2 linked regions of the Homo sapiens genome follow. The protein of the gene in region 1 interacts with the protein of each later gene in a pairwise test. Each region holds a gene or a part of one and is shown on either strand. Other genes may lie near its edges.

The links. The genes of interacting proteins can lie anywhere in the genome.
Region 2: the proteins of TMEM201 (region 1) and VEZT interact in a two-hybrid assay, tested with the Homo sapiens proteins (one large-scale study listed by BioGRID).

What each region holds. Positions count from the first base shown.
Region 1 is NC_000001.11:9,605,704-9,609,545, reverse strand, and holds part of TMEM201 (transmembrane protein 201), read right to left. Parts: intron 1,990-3,842; coding exon 1,757-1,989; intron 1-1,756. UniProt on the Homo sapiens protein: Critical regulator of angiogenesis and endothelial cell (EC) migration. Promotes the migration of endothelial cells, which is essential for angiogenesis.
Region 2 is NC_000012.12:95,266,109-95,269,950, forward strand, and holds part of VEZT (vezatin), read left to right. Parts: intron 1-248; coding exon 249-524; intron 525-3,842. UniProt on the Homo sapiens protein: Plays a pivotal role in the establishment of adherens junctions and their maintenance in adult life.

The DNA.
Region 1 (3,842 bases):
GGCTCACAGCAGGTGGTGAGAAGAGTCGGCACTGGGCATATTGTCCACTCCTCGTTCCATGCCCTTCTTCCCACAGAAGGGCCTGCTTTTCCAGCCATCTAGTCCCACTTTCTCCACTAATTGCAGACCCCAACTGCCTGTTCTCTCGATCCCAGGGATCACCAACCACGCTGCCTTTTCCTAAATCAGGCGCACGCACCCCAAGGGCAGGGGCCCCAATTCCAAGTGGCTGGCTGAGAGCTGAATGTGGGACCCAGGGACTGCCTCATGTCCTGTTGCCACCTGTGGGCTCTGAAGGGTCTGTTGCAGCATGCAGATAACCCTCCCCTCACCAGGCCAGGGGATAGGCTGGATAAGGGTGGTCACAAGGACCCAGCATGCCAACCAGGGTCCTTCTAGAATCCATTCTATGGATGCTGGGAGAGGCCGTCTTCCTGCTGGGCATGGGCTGCAGGACACAGGGATGAGGTGTGTGGCAGAGAAGCGGACTGAGGACAGACAGGGAGACAGCAAGCTGGATTCTGGCCACAGCACCTGAGCCCGGTCCAGCGCGTCTCTGAATACATGAGCCAAAGCCCTGCAGGAACTCCTGCCCCCGACCCACCCTCTGGCGATGGAGACCGGGCTCCTCCCCCCGACCCACTCTGGTAATGGAGACTGGGGTCCCATCTGTCACCGGACACTCCAAGACAAGCTTGCGCCCCAAGACCTCTGCTGCTACCTCAGACAGGTCGCTACTGTGTCCCTGCCTTGAGCCTTAACAGGGAGATTGCCTGTTCTTCTCTGTGGGCAGGAGCCCCTGCCTTGGAGGCCTGAACTGGCCCTGGGATTGCCACGCTCCCCTCCCAAGGGGCTTGAAACAGAAGTCCCTGAGCTCTGCCACCTTGGTCAGTGCGCACAGAGTTTACTCGGAGTGCTCAGGCCCAGGGCAGGGCTGCTCCTGGCACCTCCCACCCCAAGTTCCATTCAAGTGCCACCAGGCTGGGGTGCCCTGAAAATAGGGGGGTATCTCTGCTTAGGGGAAAAGCAAAAGCATCCTAATATAAACCTTGGCGTGTGTACAAAATGGCCTGCCCTGTAACTGCACGAGAGGAGAGGGGCCTTGGCTGTTATCAGCATCTCCTCCCCTAGAATAACTAGAGTGGCCCCCTTTGCTGAGGGGCATGTTGCAATTTTAGAGGAAAAGATTAGGGCACAGCACGGTGCACACATTTACCCAAGGTCATGTCACCAGAGCTGGGACTAAGGGGCCGTGCTGGGGCTCCCAGATGATATGGCAATTCTGGGCACTTTATTTTTATTTTTGTTGAGACAGGGTCTTGCTCTGTTGCCCATGGTGGAATGCAGTGGCGTGATCATAGCTCACTGCAGCTTCCAACTCCTGGGTTCAACCGATCCTCCCACCTCAGCCTAAATAGCTGGGACTATAGGTGTACGCCACCATGCCCAGTTAATTAAAACAACTTTTTTTGTAGAGACAGCGTCTCCCTATGTTGCCCAGGCTGGTCTTGAACTCCTAGCCTCAAGCCATCCTCCCACCTTGGCCTCCTAAAGTGCTGGGATTAAAGGCATGAGCCACCTATTCCTAGCTAGCCCCATTTCTTTGGGGGGAACTGAGGCTCAAAGCTCTGTGCTGCCTGTCTCTGCAGCAGGAACACTAACCACTCCCGGCCCTCCCTACACTATGTACCCATCCACAGTTCTGTCCCAGCTGCCCCTAGCCCTGACTGTCTGCCAATGCCTGGGCACCCCTTACCTGCTCGAGTCAGAGAGGGTATGGTTCCCAGAGAGAGGGCCCGGCTGAGGCGGCCAGGCAATGAGGAGGGTGAGGTCCGTCGAGGAGACCGGAAGAGCTGCTGGTTGGCGAGGGGCAGGAAGCTGGGCGGGCTGGGGATGAACAGAGACGCTGGAGAGCCTCCGACACTCGGGTGAGGGATGGCCAAGCTGGGGCTGGTGGGGAAAAGGCCGGCAGAGTCTCCTGGGAAGAACCTGCAAGGGCCCGTCAGGCACGGGACAAGAAGAGGGTCAGCGGGAGGTCCTGGAGGCAGCCTTGCAGTGGGTCCCACCCCTCTCCCACAGTGCAAGGTGGGGGCCTCAGCTGGGGTCCCAGAGGAGGCGTGCGTTAGTTAAAGCAGAAAAGCAATCCGACCACATTCACGCCATTAGGAGCGGGTGGCTGGGAGGTGCCAGCAAGACCCGGCCCTCCCCACATGCCCCCTCCTACCCCCTCGGCTCACAGCAAACTATCTCCACTACGAGTCTCGGTATTAAAGTGACACTGTCGCCTTTGCCAACCTCATGCCAACCCTTTCGCCTTGAAGCAAAAATGCCCAGCCCCGTGCCAGGCACTCAATGAAGGTTAATGGACTTGGACTCCTTGCCACTTCTTGTTCTGTGCCGAGCCTTCCCACAGAGCGGCCGGGCTCAGGGACATCCTGGCTCATCTCCCAGATGGGCCTGGATCATAGGAAGTCAGGCCCCAGCACGGCTCTGGGCACCCTCTGTTCCCAGGTGTGATTCCTGGAAGTCCTCCCACAGCTCTGCCCTTAGAAGGCTGCCTCCTGCTCTCTGGCCTTGCACTCTGGAAACTCCTCTGAAGTTCCTGGTAGAGCAGAACTGGGGGGCAGCCAGGCCTTGGAACCCCCTGGAAGAGGCTCTCACAGGACAACGCCAAAACCGAACTTAGAAGAGACCCATCCACGACCGCAAGGCTGCCCGAAAGACGGAAGGTGACAGTGTCTCTTTAACTCGAGATGGTACAAATCACACAACAGGACCTGATGGCCCCACGCCAGAACGTCAACCATGCTTCTGATTAAGGCACCCAATTACAGAGGGAAGAGAGGGACAGAGGCAGTTAATACATTAGTCCACCGTCTGGACGGAGCTCCGGGGGTCCAGCCTTACCTCGGTGCCAAGGGACAAATGAGCCCAGTGGACAACGTGCTGGTGAGCGGGCAGGCTGGCCCACGCCCTGCAGGAGCCGGGGGCTGCTTAAGGGACCTGCGCCCAGCATGACTGCATGCTCGGGGATCGCTAGCCAAGCCGCGCGCCACCAACCTCCCTGCTACTTTCCCTCTAAAAAAGTTTTATAAGGAAAGTGTGGGGCCAGCTCTTGACTTCCCGGAGAATCATGTAACCTTTCTAATGCCTTCCAAGGTGCCAGGAGACCACCTGGACTTCAGAACCAAAGGCGAGGCCATGTTTGGCGAATGTGGGCATCAAGGCAGGAGCTGAGCTGGGGACCCTGGGGAAGGCCCCGGTCAGCCGGACTGGACACATCCTTGTTCCGCCTGCTGACCTGTGATTCCCAGGCCCAGCGCCCGCTGCTTGCCCCCAAGACTCCAGGGAAGGCTCCACCTCTACACAGAAGATGAGGTTTTGTGTCGTCATGTTAGAATTCTGATTCCATTTGGCGGGACAGCGCAGCGACTTCAGGGAATGACCCTGAGGGCACCTTTAGGCAGGGGCAGTGAAGGTGTTGCTGGGACCTTGGGGCATGACCCTCCATGGGAGGGAGTTTGTGGGGCAGGGCTCTGCGCTAGGCTTCCTGTGCCCACCCTGCCCGGCAGCACAGACATAGCCAAGAGTCAGCCAAGGGTGACCAGGTCCCCCAGTGACCTGAGAGTACCGTTGGGGGATGTGTGAAAGGAGGGTCCTAGTGGGCTGTGGGTATGAGGTGGTCAGCTGGGCCACGCAGCTCCTGGCCCCAAAGGGTGGGCTCTAGCAGGAGTGGCTGGGTCTTGCCAGTGCATCCCCACTCCTCCCAGCTCCTGCTCACACCACCCGGGGCTGCCTCAGTGCTTAAAGGCTGAATCTCCTGGCCACCTGGCACAGGGGCT
Region 2 (3,842 bases), on another chromosome or scaffold:
GTTTTCTTACTTAAATTTATCAGCTCAGATGTTAATACCTAAGCACTATTGTCTAGTTGCGAGGTATTTTAAAAATCTTTCACATCACCTTCTTAAATGTCATATATTTTTAAGTTATGCTTTACAAAGAAGCTAGCATTTTATTTATTTAGTAAACCTAAATTTAAATTTTGTTTTTACTGATTAAAGTAATTCATCTTTCTTTCTCTAATCTGATGCATATCATTTTCTTCCTTTCTTGTTCCCAGGGATCTCTCAATGCTATTTGCCTTCATTAGCTTGCTCGTTATGCTTCCCACTTGGTGGATTGTGTCTTCCTGGCTGGTATGGGGAGTGATTCTATTTGTGTATCTGGTCATAAGAGCTTTGAGATTATGGAGGACAGCCAAACTACAAGTGACCCTAAAAAAATACAGCGTTCATTTGGAAGATATGGCCACAAACAGCCGAGCTTTTACTAACCTCGTGAGAAAAGCTTTACGTCTCATTCAAGAAACCGAAGTGATTTCCAGAGGATTTACACTGTGAGTTCATTTTTTATTTTATTTCTTAAATGATTATTTTCTATTCCATAAAGGAGAATATTTATTACCTATTTTCATTTCTATGTTGCATTTATAGGAAAAAAAAGTGCTTTTCTCTTTAGTACTTACTAAAGTCAATTAACTGCTAAGTGAAGGAATAAATACATTATGTGCTAGATTTAATATGTAGTATGATTCTGCCTATCTGCTTTGAGGAACTAAAGTACTTTGGAGATCATGATTATTTCTGTATGTTACCATGTGATTATATGAGATAATATATAGAGAGTGTCTGATACTGAACCTAACGTGCAGTAGTTACCCAGTAAATGCTTGCTCCCATTACTCCCTTTCAAATGCCTTCTTTATGATAGACGTATCTGCTATAAATGCATTTTGAAAACTCTTGACATGTACTAATAACTGTTCAGGTAAATATTAGCAGATATTATAGCACTGATACTCTCAGAATATCATGCAAATAGTGATGTTTTCCATTCTTACAGGAAATTAAATATTCACCAGTCTAGCTGTAAGTATATTAAGCTGTAGGATATATTGACTACTTAATCTATTATTAAAGGGAAAGTTACATTTATTGAGCACCAACTATATTCCATATACTATGCTAGTCACTTTTGCATACAACTAAAGGCATAGAATTATAAATGGTAAATATTCATATCCATTCCATCTGATTCTAAACCCGGCTTGCAGTACACTGGACACCTGCCAAACACTAACAGATGACAGTTGTGTGCTAGTATATTTAATAATTTATATAACCTATATAACTTTTGCAATCTATAGGTGGGGGAAAGTAAGCATATGGTGAAGAACATTCATAGCTCTTAATTAGTCGTATCTAGAAAATCATGAAAAGAGGGAGTGAAGAACCTCTGGTAGCCATCGCATCCTTCACTCTGTTCTGCTCTAGAACATTACACAATCTTGAGATAAACACTGTTTCTAAAAAATCATGGAATAGAGAAATGGAAGAATCCCAGTAGTTATCTTGTTCTTTACTCTCTTGTGTTCTACACACAATCCCAAGACATAAGATGGATTTTATAATTTCTCTTTCTTCTCAATCAAAGTATAAAAGTCAGCCAGGCACAATGGCTCACACCCGTAATCCCAGCACTTTGGGAGGTCGAGGCATGAGGATCACTTGAGCCCAGGAGTTCAAGACTAGCCTAGGCAATCTAGCAAAACCCCATCTCTACAAATAATAAAAAATTAGCCAGACGTGGTGGCACACACCTGTAGTCCCAGCTACTCGGGAGGCTGAGGTGTGAGGATTGCTTAAACCCCAGGAGGTTGAGGCTGTAGTGAGCCAAGATTGTGCCACTGCACTCCAGTTTGGGCAACAGAACTGGAGACAACAGATTCTGTCTAGGTTGGGCAACAGACTTGGTCTCAAAAAAAAAAGTATAAAAGTTCTTAGCATCTGTTGATTTTTGTCGTTGCATTAGTTGAAGTCTACTTCTTATTGACTTAAAGGATAGCACGTTTTTAAGTTGTTTAAGTGTCAAATTTTAAAAGTTTAAAAAAATCATGCTTAAAATAAGTAATATTTCCGGCCGGGCACGGTGGCCCACACCTGTAATCCCAGCACTTTGGGAGGCCGAGGCGGGCGGATCACGAGGTCAGGAGATCGTAGCTATCCTGGCTAACACGGTGAAACCCCGTCTCTACTAAAAATACAAAAAGAAATTAGCCGGGCGTGGTGGCGGGTGCCTGTAGACCCAGCTACCCGGGAGGCTGAGGCAGGAGAATGGCATGAACCCGGGAGGCAGAGCTTGCAGTGAGCCGAGATCGCGCTACTGCACTCCAGCCTGGACGACAGAGCGAGACTCCGTTTCAAAAACAAAAAAAAAGTAATAGTTCCTTTTTATTTTATTGAGAGGACTTACTGGTTGAACAAAGTGGCTTTGTTCAACTAATGGTTAGGCGTGTATAGAGGATTCTGTGCCTTGTGTCATTTTCCAACTTTATCTGTCCCCATGGAATTTGCACGAAGAGGTAAAGTGGGCCAGTTAGACATGATTTACCTTCCAGATTATGACTTCTACCCATTCAGATGACAGACGAAGAGAAGTATTGGAAGAAATTGTGCTTCCTTTGTCTCTATCTAACTGGATAATGGGTTGAAAAATGAATAATAAGTCTTGAATCATAATTTTTTAGACATTTTCAAAATTAGACAGTTTTTAAAACTGATTTAGTAAAATGGAGCACAAGCAGTAGTGCCATATATTGAAATCATGAATGCTGTTTTGTTTCTGACTCAAATTGTCCTCTCTCACAAATAATTGAAACCTTTTTTGCCTTCATTCCCTTGTCTTAACATAAGCCTGTCAGTCATCATCCTCTGCTTTTTATAGATTTTTTAAAATTTGGTTTTTATAGATTTTTAATACCTGAATACATTTTAGTATGGTTTAACATTTTTAAAGTTTTGAGTTAGGTGTGTTGTTTTATAGCTTTGTGTTATAGTATAAGCAATTTACAAATGCCAATATTTTGTTTTACTGTTGGGAAAGATTACTGGTTAGGTGAAAAAATTTATCTGATAACCAGGTATTTACTCATATATACTGTAAGTTATGAAATGTAATACATTGTATGTCATTGTTACAAATTAGGTACTCCCCATTAATCTTATGGGAAGTGCCATGAAATGTGCTTCCTCTTGAACAGCTTTGAGAGTAGCTATGCTACTATGCAGTAACCCTTACTTTGCCTTTCTACTTGTATTCCCCTGTTGGCCACTGGTCCTGTTATCTTTCCACGTCCCCTACTTCATTTTGAGTAGGTAAGTGCCAGTGGCAGCAGGTGGGTAAGTAATTTTACCCTACTTTTATGAATGTACAGAATGTATTTCTATACAGTATTTTTTCTGTACAAGTGACCAAAATATGATCAGTGAACATATGTGATGAACGTATGTAAATGTATATTAAGAATTTAAAAGTGTTTATAATTAAGGTCTTCATACTTCCTATGGATATAGGTTTTGAAAACTGAATATAAAGTAGCTCTTCTCTAATATATGTTAGCAAGCATAGTGTCTATGTAAAAAAGATGTGGATTCTTAATAAATATTTCTACATTTCTGTTATATCTCAGCCAGAATCCATTGTTTCCCCACATCAGAGGAAGCCTTTGCTCTTTGAGATGTTAATTTTTTGTCTTTTTTTTAGTGGTTGTCTATATATACATATATATATATATCTAGTCACAGAAATGACTATTTTATGAGACCTGAGTTGACATATGTATAATCATTTTCTAGTGAAGATCATGAAAGAGGAA